Linked DNA regions of Homo sapiens. The protein of the gene in region 1 purifies or fractionates together with the protein of each later gene. This does not show direct contact. Each region holds a gene or a part of one and is shown in the gene's direction. Other genes may lie near its edges.

The links. Proteins that work in one complex are often made in the same cells at the same time.
Region 2: the proteins of DSG2 (region 1) and LPAR1 purify together in Homo sapiens (co-immunoprecipitation; one large-scale study listed by IntAct). This does not show direct contact.
Region 3: the proteins of DSG2 (region 1) and ZDHHC5 purify together in Homo sapiens (co-immunoprecipitation; one large-scale study listed by IntAct). This does not show direct contact.
Region 4: the proteins of DSG2 (region 1) and NCSTN purify together in Homo sapiens (co-immunoprecipitation; one study listed by IntAct). This does not show direct contact.

The regions. Positions count from the first base shown.
Region 1 is NC_000018.10:31,500,891-31,504,956, forward strand, and holds part of DSG2 (desmoglein-2 preproprotein), read left to right. Parts: intron 1-4,066.
Region 2 is NC_000009.12:110,874,188-110,877,970, reverse strand, and holds part of LPAR1 (lysophosphatidic acid receptor 1), read left to right. Parts: intron 1-2,248; coding exon 2,249-2,550; 3' UTR 2,551-3,783.
Region 3 is NC_000011.10:57,699,114-57,701,965, forward strand, and holds the end of ZDHHC5 (palmitoyltransferase ZDHHC5), read left to right. Parts: coding exon 1-305; intron 306-752; coding exon 753-918; 3' UTR 919-2,069; downstream 2,070-2,852. UniProt on the Homo sapiens protein: Palmitoyltransferase that catalyzes the addition of palmitate onto various protein substrates such as CTNND2, CD36, GSDMD, NLRP3, NOD1, NOD2, STAT3 and S1PR1 thus plays a role in various biological processes including cell adhesion, inflammation, fatty acid uptake, bacterial sensing or cardiac functions.
Region 4 is NC_000001.11:160,349,883-160,353,665, forward strand, and holds part of NCSTN (nicastrin isoform 1 precursor), read left to right. Parts: intron 1-222; coding exon 223-368; intron 369-1,339; coding exon 1,340-1,490; intron 1,491-1,813; coding exon 1,814-1,923; intron 1,924-2,171; coding exon 2,172-2,324; intron 2,325-3,004; coding exon 3,005-3,109; intron 3,110-3,277; coding exon 3,278-3,355; intron 3,356-3,440; coding exon of another isoform or gene 3,441-3,449; exon of another isoform or gene 3,450-3,783. UniProt on the Homo sapiens protein: Essential subunit of the gamma-secretase complex, an endoprotease complex that catalyzes the intramembrane cleavage of integral membrane proteins such as Notch receptors and APP (amyloid-beta precursor protein).

The DNA.
Region 1 (4,066 bases):
TATATATTTTAACTAACTTCGGACTGAAATTTAGTATTTCTTTAAATTATGAGTGTGGGGAAGACACTGCACAGTAGTGTGAGCAGTAGCTGTGACTATCACAATAGAATTCATAAATACCTTTACATCTTATGGTGATCTCAAAATACCATTTATTCTGAACATCACTAATAGACTTTCTACTAGATCTTTTACTTAATATGTTAATAAAATACATGATACTGCTGCATCACAAATTGGTATTTTAAAAATGCTGATAACTATTTCAATATAATTGGGTTCATTGATAATCCCCTGTATTTTATTTTATACATTTGAAATCATTAATCTGAGAAGGGGTTCATAGGCCTCGCCAGATTGCCAAGGAGGGCTCGTGGGTGAGAGATTTCCTGATGGTTGCTTCAATTTTGGGTTCGACTAATGAAGCTTGTGCTTTAAAATCAAACTACATTTTAAGGATTCAATGATAGCAGATCACACTGTGAGCAGATATATTTAGTAGGGTATTAGTTTGCTAGGACTGCTGTAACGAAGTGCTAAAAACTGAGTGGCTTAAAACAACAAAAATGTATGATCTCACAGTTCCAGAGGCTAGAAATCCAAAATCAAGATATGGGCAGGGCCATGCTCCCTCTGAAACCAGTTTCCCTCCTTTCCTCTTCCAAGTGCATACTGGTTTGTTGGCAATCTTTGTCATTCCTTCTCTTGTAGGTGCATTCATTACTCCAATCCTCCATCTGCGCATGGCATTCTCTCTTTTGTCTCTTTATATCATCTTCCCTCTGTGCATGTCTGTGTCCTTGTCCAAATTTCCCCATTTTATAAGAACATCGGTTGTACTGGATTATGCCCCAAAATAATGACCTCAGCTTGGTTAAATCTGCAGAGACCCTATTTCCAAATAAGCTCACATTCTGAGGTACTGGTGGTTAGCACTTCAATATATTATCTTTTAGGGGTCATAATTTGATCCATAACAAGTGGATTCAAGTATCTATAAATTATCAATAATATCAGAGTTATGCTTAGTGTTCTAATATACAACTGAATAATATATATTAAAGAATACATTAAAGTATAAATTAGATGGTGAATATTGAAGCCATAAGAATAATCAATTATCATATCCAAGGATTTTAGAAACATGGATTTCTTACTGGTTTTTGTTTCTAAAAGTTAGTAGGTAATGGGAAAATGGCAGCTCTTAACAGAAATTTTCTTTAATTATAACTTAAGGCAAGTACTTTACAAAGAGATATGAGCATTCATTGGCCTACGTACTCTCTGATTATTAGAAATCCCCGATAAGCTAAATTAAAGTTTCCAAGGCTAATATTCTGTGGTGTGTGAGTGTAGTGAGCCCTGGGGCGGGCTCACTACAATATAAATATGTATTTATAGAAACTTCCCAATTGATCTAATTGTCAGACAAGTGTAAGCGTGAGAATTACTGGTCTATATTTTGCAAAAAAATCTATATTTATGACATAGAAAAATTTACATGGGAAAAATTACACATTGAATAGGGATAAGTGTTTTTGAAAACTGCCAAATTATATTTAAAATTAGAAACTTTAGGCTGGGCACAGTGGCTCACGCCTGTAATCCCAGCACTTTGGGAGGCCAAGGTGGGCGGATCACCTGAGGTCAGGAGTTTGAGACCAGCCTGGCCAGCATGGTGAAACCCCATCTCGACTAAAAATACAAAAAATTAGCTGGGTGTGGTGGCACATGCCTGTAGTCCCAGCTACTCAGGAGGCTGAGGCAGGAGAATCGCTTGAACCTGGAAGGCGGAGGTTGCAGTGAGCCGAGATTGTGCCACTGCACTCCAGCCTGGGTGACAGAGGGAGACTCTGTCAAAAAAAAGAAGGAAGGAAGGAGGGAAGAAAGGAAGGGAGGGAGGGAGGAAGGAAGAAAGGAAGGAAGGAACTTTAACTGAAAGCATAAAGGACTTTTAGATCTATTTGAGCAATTTTTAATCACAGCTTTTTTCCCTTGTCTTTCACTCTGACACAGATTTCAATAGCTTTGACAACAATTTATAAACATATAGTCTACATATGATGAGAAACTATCTTCTCAGTTTTGTTTTTTATTAAGTTTTTGTCATATGCAAAGCTTGGTGATTAGAGTGAAGAAGCTGGAACAACAGAATTCCTACCGTGGTCGATAGTGAGATGAGAAATGTCCATAAGAAAAGAAACCAGACACATGACCCCTATTTAGTGAATCCCTGCTTGATGCTAGGCAATGTGCTAAACACTGGAGAACTATAAAAAAGCCAGACATGTTCTGCCCTCATGGTGCTTACAGTCTAATGAATGGTATAACAAGTAAATGGCTAACTTCCAAATGGGTAACGATAAGAAGAGTAATAATAGAGAAACGTAGTACCATGGAGCCTATAGAAGGAGCAACTATCTCAGCACTGGGTATCCCAGCTGGTATCTGAGAATAATTATAAATTAGTGAGATGATATGAAGAGAAATAGATTCTAGGTAGAGAGAAGAGCATCTAAAAGGCCTGAAAATGATAGTTCATGGTTCTGCAGAGGAACCTAAACATTCATTGTTGCTTGAACTTAGAAAGTGAGGCAGAAGAATGTATAGGAAGATAGGCCTTCAAGCCAACAGAAGCCCAGAAAAGCTACTTGCCAAGGAAGTGTTTTCAGGGAGGTATTCACATCACTAAGTAAATGAAAAGATGGGCTTTGGGTGAGATGGTCAGGAAAGAGTCAAGAAAGAAGAGATAGGATTTGAGTGATTAAGTATAATTGCGCCCAGTTAAAAAGAGAGGCAACAGGCATTGAGGACTTGGTAAGCTGAGATCAAAGCCAGGCAGAAAAGCCCAGAGACCATGGGGTACCTGGGAGGGAGAAGCAGCCTGACTGCCACAGGGAGATTGGTTTGGGAGCCAAAGGGGTGGGAAGGCATTTTGGTTGTCACAGTGCCTGAGGATGCCCCTGGTATTTAGTTCCCAAGGTCCAGGGATGCTAAGACTCTACATTCTGCAGAACCTTCAAGAATTGGGCACGTGTGAAGAATTTTTCTATCCAAAATGCTTATAGCACCCACATTGAGAAACAGTGATAGGCAAAGTAAGAGGTTCTAAGTAGGGATTTATTTTACTTGTCTGGACCCTCTTTTTGAAAGGCAAATATCTCTTGGGTTGATTACGCCTTGATACATTCGTCCACTCAACAAATATTGAGCACCTACTCTGTGCCAAGCACTGTTCCAGGTCTCACCTCGAAATCACACCTGACTGTGGATTATTTTCATCAGTCAAGGAGTTTCCATCTGGCTGACTGGGGAATGTTTTGGATGGAGATGAGAGGAGATGAGACCGTTCAGATTTCCCTCGGTCTAAAACACCTCCATCCCACCACTCTTTCAAGCCCCCTACAATGCAAACAAAAACATTAAACAATGTTTGATACCCACTGCCTCAATTTAATGATCCAGTCTCCTTAGACCCCAAAAGTGCTAATTGAGAAACTGGGCAAGGGTCCTAGCTCAGTCATCATCTTCTTTTAAAACCATTAATCATATCATTTCTTGTTTCAGTTATCGCCTTCCTTTGCTTTCTCAGTATTCTGGGGTTCCTTTCACTTACAGGAACCTGCAGTGCTTCTCACCCCTTTTTATCTGGCCTAGCACGATGGGCAGACGGCAGAGGGGGGGACACAGTACATATATTACTAGGAGACATCAAGTAGGGGTGGGAGACAATGGCAGTGGCCAAGAGGGTGCTGCCCTTAGGACAGTGTGCATGTGGATGTTGAGAATGTCCCCAGTGGCCAGGCAATCCATGCTCGTCATTGAGCCGCACTGCCCTGCTCTCTGTTATGTAGCATCTCTCCGCCCTACTCAGATACTTTCCCCAGGACCTAAGCTTAACATGTCTACAATCTGTCTTCTGGAAATTGCATCTTTCTAGCCACTCAGACTGAAAACGTTGGCACCCTCTGACTCCTTCCCTATTATCCCCACACAGGGCATTGCCAAGGATTTTTGTCCCCATAAAGACTCCTACTTCTACCTGTCTATCTCATTGCCATTCCCC
Region 2 (3,783 bases), on another chromosome or scaffold:
GGCTCTTTCTGGAAAGATCTTACACCTTTTAAATTTTAACATGGGAAGAAATTATAAACAACAAATGACAGTGTTTGAATTCTCTCACTTTTGAGCAAAGTCAAGCAGCTTAAGTATGAGAGAATAAAGATATTCCCTTCTGTTGCCCAGAAGGAGAAAAAGATCATTTTATTTAAAATCTAGCTATTGAGATGCATGTTCCTTGTGTCTAATCAAGTTCTGAATTTGAACTCAATTAGAGCTTTGATAAAAGGAAGGGGAAAGGAAACTTGAAAGAATGCTGTTCCATTCATGAAGGGACTGTGTGTTTTTAGTTTCCAAGTAAATGGCATAATGGGACCATGCATTTTCCATCCAAGCATTTTCCATCCTGAGAATAATTCCCTTCCTGGCTTCTCAATGAATAATGCATTATTTCTGAAACCCAAGAGGCATTCCTTTGATTTTCCTTTATGTTTAGCTTTCTGAGTGATTTTCAAGCAAGGAAATTCAAGGACTTGGAATGAATGCTTTATTAACATTTTTATTGAAGTTCAAATTGCTCCTTGGCTATTATCTCCTGATATTTGAAATATTTTTTTCTCTCCAAGGAAAGTCTAAGGTGTTGTATTTATTAGAAAATGAAGTACCTTGGCCAATCTTCAAAGTGAACAGCAGTTTAAAACCAATACACATTTGTGTTGTAGAACAAAGAGCTTTATGGGGGTACTTTTCTCCTTTATTTTCATTTCCCTGCTGAAAAGTTTCACAAAAGAAAGCTCAGATTCAAAAGTGGGCTGTTTGGAGACTAAATCTCATTTGTTTACATTTTGTGAAACTAATTCCTTGAGGCTGGACCAAATCCATGACCCCAGTCCAAGCCTGCATCCACCAAAGCCAGCGCCATTTAAATCTGAAGATGCAAATGCCCTTCTGGGGTTGCTCCTACTTCCGCTCTGCCTGATTACACATATGTAGCCTGCCTGATTACACATATGGGGCCCATTAGGTGAGGTGTAATGGGACACAGTGGTGCCCACCGCTGTTGGCTCATGTTCTTTCAGTAGAAGATCCCCAGCAGAGTCTGGAGTAACACAGTGGTAGGATTTAATGCTATTTTACAACCTCCATTTTCCTGGGATCCAAATGATGAGTGATTTCAGAAACTAAATGAAATAGAATTAAGCATCTCATCTATATTTTCATTCCTCTTACAGTTATAGTAAAATTGTAATGATTCAGAATAATTGGGGGAAGAAAGAGAACAAAGTTGATCTAAATTAGTAGAACATCTGAAATAGTAAATTTGGTTTAAAATATTTAATGTTATCATTTTCAAGATATAGAAATGTAATATTTTCTAGAGCTTGAACTCTGGAGGCAGCCTCTAAGAACAGAAACTCTGGGATTTTTCTGCTTTCCAGTACTGTGGCCTTGAGCCAGTTATATAAACTTTCTGGGTCTCAGTTCCTTCATCTGTACAATGGGGATATTAGTTTCTATGTCATATGGCTACTGTGAAAATTCAATAAATTATTACTGGTAAAGCATATAGGACAGCACTATGTGGGTAGTTGTTGAATAAAAATAAAACATAGATCTTGTCATTGAAAATCACAATTTCCAAACAGGCCCATGCTACTCAGCAGGTAATAATTATTATTGTTATTGTAGATACAGATTGAGTGATTATTTCCTTAACACTTGTTTAATCCATACAACAAACCTTATGAGGTGTAAATATAATCATCTGCATTTTCAGATGGGAAAATTAAGGAAAGAAAGTAGTTTGCCTAAGTTCACCCAGTTTATTACATGTCAAACAAAGATTTGGGCCCAGACAACCTGAATCCAGAAACTATGCCTTAATTAAACATTAAAGGACACTTATCATTCGTGCTTATCTTTTGCCTGAAAATAACACTGCTATTAAAAACCATGTTGTTATGTGAGGTGAAGTGTTTCCTGAATGCAGTTTTTCATATCTCAATTGCTTATCAAACTCTTTGTGTTTTGCTCAAAATAATAATCATCAATGTCTCATAATTGCTTGATTTTAGTAACGTCCAAAATAAAATTTTAAGTTGACTATCGTTAAATTTTTTCTGATTTTCTCAGGAAATGAGTATTTCATTTGCGACAATGGTGGCTTCCAACTTCAGTATTTTTATATTGAACTGAAATCATTTCACTTTATGGTCGCATGTTTTATAATATTTTTTCATTCTCTTTTTAAAAATCCTTCTGATCCCTATCCTTGTCCTTGTAGGGGCCTTTATCATCTGCTGGACTCCTGGATTGGTTTTGTTACTTCTAGACGTGTGCTGTCCACAGTGCGACGTGCTGGCCTATGAGAAATTCTTCCTTCTCCTTGCTGAATTCAACTCTGCCATGAACCCCATCATTTACTCCTACCGCGACAAAGAAATGAGCGCCACCTTTAGGCAGATCCTCTGCTGCCAGCGCAGTGAGAACCCCACCGGCCCCACAGAAGGCTCAGACCGCTCGGCTTCCTCCCTCAACCACACCATCTTGGCTGGAGTTCACAGCAATGACCACTCTGTGGTTTAGAACGGAAACTGAGATGAGGAACCAGCCGTCCTCTCTTGGAGGATAAACAGCCTCCCCCTACCCAATTGCCAGGGCAAGGTGGGGTGTGAGAGAGGAGAAAAGTCAACTCATGTACTTAAACACTAACCAATGACAGTATTTGTTCCTGGACCCCACAAGACTTGATATATATTGAAAATTAGCTTATGTGACAACCCTCATCTTGATCCCCATCCCTTCTGAAAGTAGGAAGTTGGAGCTCTTGCAATGGAATTCAAGAACAGACTCTGGAGTGTCCATTTAGACTACACTAACTAGACTTTTAAAAGATTTTGTGTGGTTTGGTGCAAGTCAGAATAAATTCTGGCTAGTTGAATCCACAACTTCATTTATATACAGGCTTCCCTTTTTTATTTTTAAAGGATACGTTTCACTTAATAAACACGTTTATGCCTATCAGCATGTTTGTGATGGATGAGACTATGGACTGCTTTTAAACTACCATAATTCCATTTTTTCCCTTACATAGGAAAACTGTAAGTTGGAATTATCTTTTGTTTAGAAAGCATGCATGTAATGTATGTATGCAGTATGCCTTACTTAAAAAGATTAAAAGGATACTAATGTTAAATCTTCTAGGAAATAGAACCTAGACTTCAAAGCCAGTATTTGTTTAGGTCATGAAGCAAACAATGCTCTAATCACAATATTAACTGTTTAATTAAAATGTTGTAACAAGTATAAAACAGGGAATGTAAGTTTATTACCAAAGTGATATGTATTCCAAAAAAGTCATAGAAGATGAAGCACTATAATATTGTTCCCATATATTTAAAATACCCAAGTACATTCTAATTACCAGTATATCAGAGGAAAATTTTCGTAGTCTTTGTAAAATAATATACTCATCATAGAAAACTTGAAAAATGCAGAAATGTATAAAAAAGCAAAAATGATTACTGATAATATCACAACCCAGAAGTAACCACCTTTAAAAAGCAACCCCCATGTATGCCTATATGTGTATTGTATACTTTTTTTACATAATTGGAGTCATACTGTAAACAGTTTTATAAGTAGATCTTTTTCATTGCAAAATTGCCACATTTTCTTATGGCATTAAAAATTTTACAAAAACATAATTTTAATGGCTATATTATATTCCATTTAATGGATGCAACTCAGTTTATTTAACCATTCCCATGTTGTTAACTATTTAGGTTGTTTCTAATTTTCATTATTATAAAGTTGCAG
Region 3 (2,852 bases), on another chromosome or scaffold:
CGTGAGGAAGAACCAGGCTTGGGGGACTCAGGCATTCAGTCAACACCAGGCTCGGGCCATGCCCCTCGTACTAGTTCCTCCTCAGATGATTCAAAGAGATCACCTTTGGGCAAGACTCCACTGGGACGCCCAGCTGTCCCCCGTTTTGGCAAGCCAGATGGGCTAAGGGGCCGGGGAGTAGGGTCCCCTGAACCAGGCCCAACAGCCCCATACCTGGGCCGATCGATGTCTTACAGCAGCCAAAAAGCCCAACCTGGTGTCTCTGAGACAGAAGAAGTGGCCTTGCAGCCATTACTGACACCCAAGTAAGTATTAGTACTATCCTGACCCTTAGCCAATTTCAAATTAGCATACTGCTCTGCAAAAGCTATCAGGGCTTCTGTTGTACATCCTAATGTAGGTGGACCCAGGGGTATCCTGGTAGCTCTTTATTTTCACTTTGACTCTACCTGCCTTCATGGGCAATTCCTGTTAAGAGACTGAAGATTAATACTTTTTCCATAATGCTATCTTCCTAAAAGTATTTGCTTGGGAGTAAGTACATGTGATAGCTGTTACTAGAGAGTAGTAGTACATAGGAGAGATTGGGAATCAGGCTTATTTTAAGCAGGGCAATAAAGGGGAATGTTTGGGTAAGAAAGTATGGATATAGAAAAGAACATCATTTTTTTCTCTGAACCTTTGAAACTGTCTCCCTTTCCAATGTTTTCTGTCCCATTTCCTGACACCTACGTCTTGTCTCTTCTTTCCAGAGATGAAGTACAGCTGAAGACCACCTACAGCAAATCCAACGGGCAGCCCAAGAGCTTAGGCTCAGCCTCCCCTGGCCCAGGCCAGCCACCTCTCAGTAGCCCCACGAGGGGAGGAGTCAAGAAGGTGTCAGGGGTTGGTGGTACCACCTATGAGATTTCGGTGTGAGCCTTCGGCACCTCCCCTCCCCAACGCCTCTGCGCCTACACCAAAGGGCCCCAGGTGGCCACCTTCCTTCCCTCAAGGGGCTCCCCTCCCGTGCATGGACATTTTTTAAACCACCGATTCCAAGAGGATGAGGAGTGTTTTCTAAAATGCAGTAGGCTTGGGGAGTCGGAGAGTTGGGGCCCTGAGACTGGGGTAGCAACCCCCCCTTTTATCTTTTAAGACCTTCCCTTCCTTGATCCCTGGACCAGACTCAGTGGACATTTGTGCAATTGCTCGCCCTGGAGGGAACCAGATCATTTTTAAACCAGAAATAATTTTTTTTATTATTGTTACGGATTCTATTTTTTTCCTCTTCTGCGTTACCAGGTGTGTGTGTACATATAATATATATATATATATATTATAAATATCAAAGAAATTATATATCTATCCTGGGATGGGAAAATGAGGGAGGGATACATATACGGAGGGGGATCTTACTCTTCCCATTCCTCAGACCAGCAGGAAAAGAGGGGAGACGTCAGTCTTTTTCCTGTGGTTCCCTCTCATTTGTCCCAGTTACTAACTACGGAAATAGCATCCTCTGCTGGTGCTAAGTGTGATTAGGAAGAAGCCTGGGGAGAGGTGAGTCTGGAATTTTGGTCACAAGAGGGAAGGACTTGGAGAGGAGAATTAGTTTTCTAGGCTCATTGGCATTTAGTTTCCCTAGGAAAGGGGTCAAAACTTCAAGACACTGGTGGTGGTGGGAGATCAGGAAAATAACTTGGCCTAGCTCAAACAATATTGGATAATCCCCTCCTTGGGGGAGAGGGATTAGAGTGTGCTCCTACTGGCCCCTTGGAGCCTCCCCTAGCTTACACAGTTAACTTGATTTTAAAATCCAAGGCCAGGAGAGAAGAATCCAAAAAGCAATATTTTTCATCACATGCCAAAAACGGGGGATAGAGAGAAGGAGTGGCAGGCCTAGGCCCCTCCGATTGTCCCTTGGGGGTTACCCCTCAGCCCACCTCACTATGGTGCTGGGTAGAGGGGATACCTGGGTTCTAACCTCTAAATAGGGGAGATCCCAGCCTCCACAAAGAGGCCCTTTTATTTTTTATTCTGATTAGCCATTTTAAACCAACGAGGAATAAAAAGAAATCCTGATCTAACCAGCGCCCCCTGACTTGTGTTATTTTGTCTGGTTGAGACAGGGTGAACGATCTCTGGTGGGAAGTTATCAGTGACAACCTCATAAACTTCTCTGGTCCCAGCCCATCTTTAGGCAAGACTATAATGAAATTAGCCACTTAACAACTAAAAAAATAAAAAAGAGACCCAGTGCGGTGGCTTATACCTGTAATCCCAGCACTGAGGGAGGCTGAGGCAAGAGGATCACTTGAGCCCAGGAGTTCCAGACCAACCTGGGCAACATAGAGACTCCATTTCTAAAAACAACAGGTCCTGTTTTTATTTGGGTGATTTAATTCAAAAATTCCTGAAAAAAGGTCTCTTGAAATCACCAAAACTGCTTGTTATTTGAAAGCTTAGAGAACTCTTAAAAGTTGTTTCTTTCAAGAGACAGGGCCTCATTCTGGTTGCCCAGGCTGGAGGGCAGTGGCACAATCAGATCACTATATCCTCAAATTCCTGGGCTCAAGGGATCTTCCCACCTCAGCCTTCTGTGAAGCTAGGACTTACAGTTGCATGCCACCATGCTTAGCTAATTTTTTTTTTTTTGGTAGAGATAGACTCTCAACCAATTTTGCCCAGACTGATCTCGAACTTCTGGCCTTGAGCAATCCTGCCTTGGCCTCCCAAAGCATTGGGATTACAGGCATGAGCCACCATGCCCAGCTACAGTTGTTTTTTAATACAGGATTTAGTCTCTGGAAAGTAAAGCTAATTTTGGAAACAGCCAAAGGTGACATAGTAACAGGTATGAAAGCCTGTTG
Region 4 (3,783 bases), on another chromosome or scaffold:
TTTGTCACGTGTTCACATCCCTAATCTTACAGCCTAAGACTCCCTGATACCATTGTCTTTCTATTTTAGTGTGGATGGTAATAGACTTCATGCCTACTTCTTTGAGTCACCACCTCCTTTTGAACTCTTAGTCCCAACTGAAAGATTCTTCTGCCGTCACCTGGTTCCTAAGTACTTGGTGTCCCAGTAACCAGTCCCCCTATTCCCCATCCTTCCCTTCAGGTGTTTACTCCAATTCCTATGGGCCAGAGTTTGCTCACTGCAGAGAAATACAGTGGAATTCGCTGGGCAATGGTTTGGCTTATGAAGACTTTAGTTTCCCCATCTTTCTTCTTGAAGATGAAAATGAAACCAAAGTCATCAAGCAGGTAATGACACTGCCAGCTCCTAGCAATTCCAGTTAGAAAGAAGATTATTTTTCTAGCCAGGTGTGGTGGTGTGTGCACGTAGTCCCAGCCACCCGGGAGGCTGAGACAGGAGGATCACTTGAGGCCGGGAGGCAGAGGTTTCAGTGAGCTGAGATGGCACCATTGCACTCCAGCCTGGGTGACAGAGCAAGGCCCTGTGTCACAAAAAAAAAAAAAAAAAAAGGATTATTTTATAGGCTCTCCTATTTGGAGGGTGGCTCATTCTTCTGGTACACCTGCTGAAAGACGGTTGCTCCAAAAAGAACCAAGACGTTAGTTCTTCTCACATTCTTTCCCCACATTTTGCTCCTACCTGATATTACAGCATTAAAGCCTTTTAGACTAGAAGAAAATATAAAGAATATCTGAAAGAGTAATATGAAACAAGGTACACAGCCCAGGTTAAGAACCACTAGTATCGTTAAAAAAAAAAGCATTGGATTAGAGATTGAGAAATTCAATTTGGTAATTTCTGAGCTTCTTTTTAGCTCTAATATGCCTTAATTCTGGTCTAGTATTTCCATTTTGACTCATAGAGTAGTTAAGAGATTTGTCCAAAGTTGTATGGTGAGTTGATCTCCAAGCTGTGTCATATCTGATTTCCTATCTCTAGTTTGGTGCTCTTTGTATCAGACCACACTGAATCTTTTCAGTGGCTGAAGCTTCAAATTGGGCCAGGCCATCTGGAATGGGATAGTTTCATCTCCAGCTAAACCACTGAGTCTGCAACCCTTTGTAACTCTTGATGAGTTTTTTTCTTTGACCTTATAGATCCTATGGTGGTTCTAGGATAACTATAGCTCAGGGATAAATGTCTCCGAAAAGGGTGTGGCTCCATCCCAAAAGGATGGAACTGGGCCCTCCTCCTTCTGGGATGTAAGGGAGGGCCTCCACAAACTAGCTGTCTCAGTGGGGTCCATCTCCCCTTTCAGTGCTATCAAGATCACAACCTGAGTCAGAATGGCTCAGCACCAACCTTCCCACTATGTGCCATGCAGCTCTTTTCACACATGCATGCTGTCATCAGCACTGCCACCTGCATGCGGCGCAGCTCCATCCAAAGCACCTTCAGCATCAACCCAGGTAGGGCAGATCCGAACCATGAGGGTAATGGAATAAGGGGCAGAGGGAGAGTGGAACCAGGCCAGGGAATGTTAGAGAGACTGTAATAGGGAAGGAGTAGACACCATGAAGGAGCTCTGCATGGGAGAACTAGAAACAATTCTGAAAAATTTAGGCAGCTTGTTCCTAAAGTGGATAGTGGCAGAGAAGCCAACCTCGGACTGTTGGAAGTAGAGAAAACGACTTAGAGTCCGTGGGGCACTGGTCAGAGATTTCCAATGTTGCCTTTATAGCTACCTTCTCCTTTAGCCTTGTTGATCTCTCATTGTTTGTGTCCTGCTTAGAAATCGTCTGTGACCCCCTGTCTGATTACAATGTGTGGAGCATGCTAAAGCCTATAAATACAACTGGGACATTAAAGCCTGACGACAGGGTTGTGGTTGCTGCCACCCGGGTGAGTGTTGGCTTCTGATCAGGATGGGCAGGGCTGGCACAAAAAGAGCTGGTAGGCCCCGCTCTAGCATATCAGATTTCAAAGTTGCTAAATTGGGAAGCCTCAAATGGGGAGGAATCTGGGCTGTGGGACTCCTGGGTTGTCTCCATTGCCACAGGACAGGTATATTCTCTTGACTGGAGCAAGAAAGGAGGTTTGGGGCCAGTTTTAAAGTATATATCCCCTGACTTTTCTTCTGTTGTACCTAGCTGGATAGTCGTTCCTTTTTCTGGAATGTGGCCCCAGGGGCTGAAAGCGCAGTGGCTTCCTTTGTCACCCAGCTGGCTGCTGCTGAAGCTTTGCAAAAGGCACCTGATGTGACCACCCTGCCCCGCAATGTCATGTTTGTCTTCTTTCAAGGGGTAAGGGCTCTTTGGCTGGGGTGCAATGGCAGGGAAGAAAGAGGATAGTAAAGATGAGAGTGGCTACTGGTTGGAGAAGACCTCAGCACTTGACCTAAGTTGTTAACCAGCACAGAGCTTCTGGATGTGTCTACATGTGTCTCCCCTTTAGATTCCTCCATTTTAGGAAGCTTAGATTCCTTCTTTTTAGGAAGCTTTTACACCCTGAATTGGTATGTAACCAGCCCCCTCTTTCCCCCACTGATAAGATATATTGGAGGCGGCCTTTTACTTTTATTCTCTGGACTCCTTTACTGCTATCTCCATCCAGGAGCCGTTAGGCTCCTGACTCTCATCACTAGGACCACAGCAGAATAAGGGAACAGCATCTGTGGCTGAGTCACTGGAGGTGGGGGACCGTTAAGAATCAGACACATAATAGCTGATGTTCATCTTAGACCTTTACTAAGGCTACTTTCCCCATTTCTGGGCTTCAGAAGTCTTGTAATACATATGAGGGATAGTCACAGCTGGGAGGTGGGGCCAAGAGAAGCCGAAAGTCACATGACTGTAAGCTGACTAGCAGTTGAGGTGACCTGAGATAGTCGTCTTACCTACAGCTTTGATGATCTGGCCGCCTTCGAGGCTCTCCTAACCCTTTGGAATCTCTGTTCCCCCTCCCACCTACCTCCATCTCTCAGGAAACTTTTGACTACATTGGCAGCTCGAGGATGGTCTACGATATGGAGAAGGGCAAGTTTCCCGTGCAGTTAGAGAATGTTGACTCATTTGTGGAGCTGGGACAGGTATGTGGCATGTCCCCCAGCCCCTTCCTTTTTAATTAAATCTTCCTCCTTTGTTGTTCTGCGGTCTTAACTGCAGGAACCACCGCCTCTTCCCTTGACTTCTATCCCCTAGGCATGGCCCAGAACAGGAGACTGATTCTAAGTGTTGTTTCTTCATCCTCCCCCCAGGTGGCCTTAAGAACTTCATTAGAGCTTTGGATGCACACAGATCCTGTTTCTCAGAAAAATGAGTCTGTACGGAACCAGGTAACCTGAGCATCTCCCCTCATTTCCTATTCCTACAGCTCAGAATCCAGACCCCAACCCCTGCCCTGTTTCCACCAACCCCCAGGGCCTGTGAGACAGGGTAAGAGACAGGATTGGATTGGGTGTTGGCCAAAGGATGAACACCACAGCTGTTGTTGCTGCTGGGAAGAATCAGGAACTCAGTGACATTCCATTGGTTCCCTGGACTGGGTAGTTCTCTGATCATTTGTTGCCTAGCAGACTACCACTGCCCATTAAGGATAGGTGAGTGACTAGCTCCCTTCTTGCCTTGCTGCCCCATGGATCCAATTGTCAAGGCTGCTCTACCCAAGTCCTGGCTGTGTCACACTCGCTGCCCAACTTGTCCTCCACTTTCCTCATTGCTTGTTCAAAACCTTCCCTTCCCTCTAGGTCCACCTTTAGGCCTG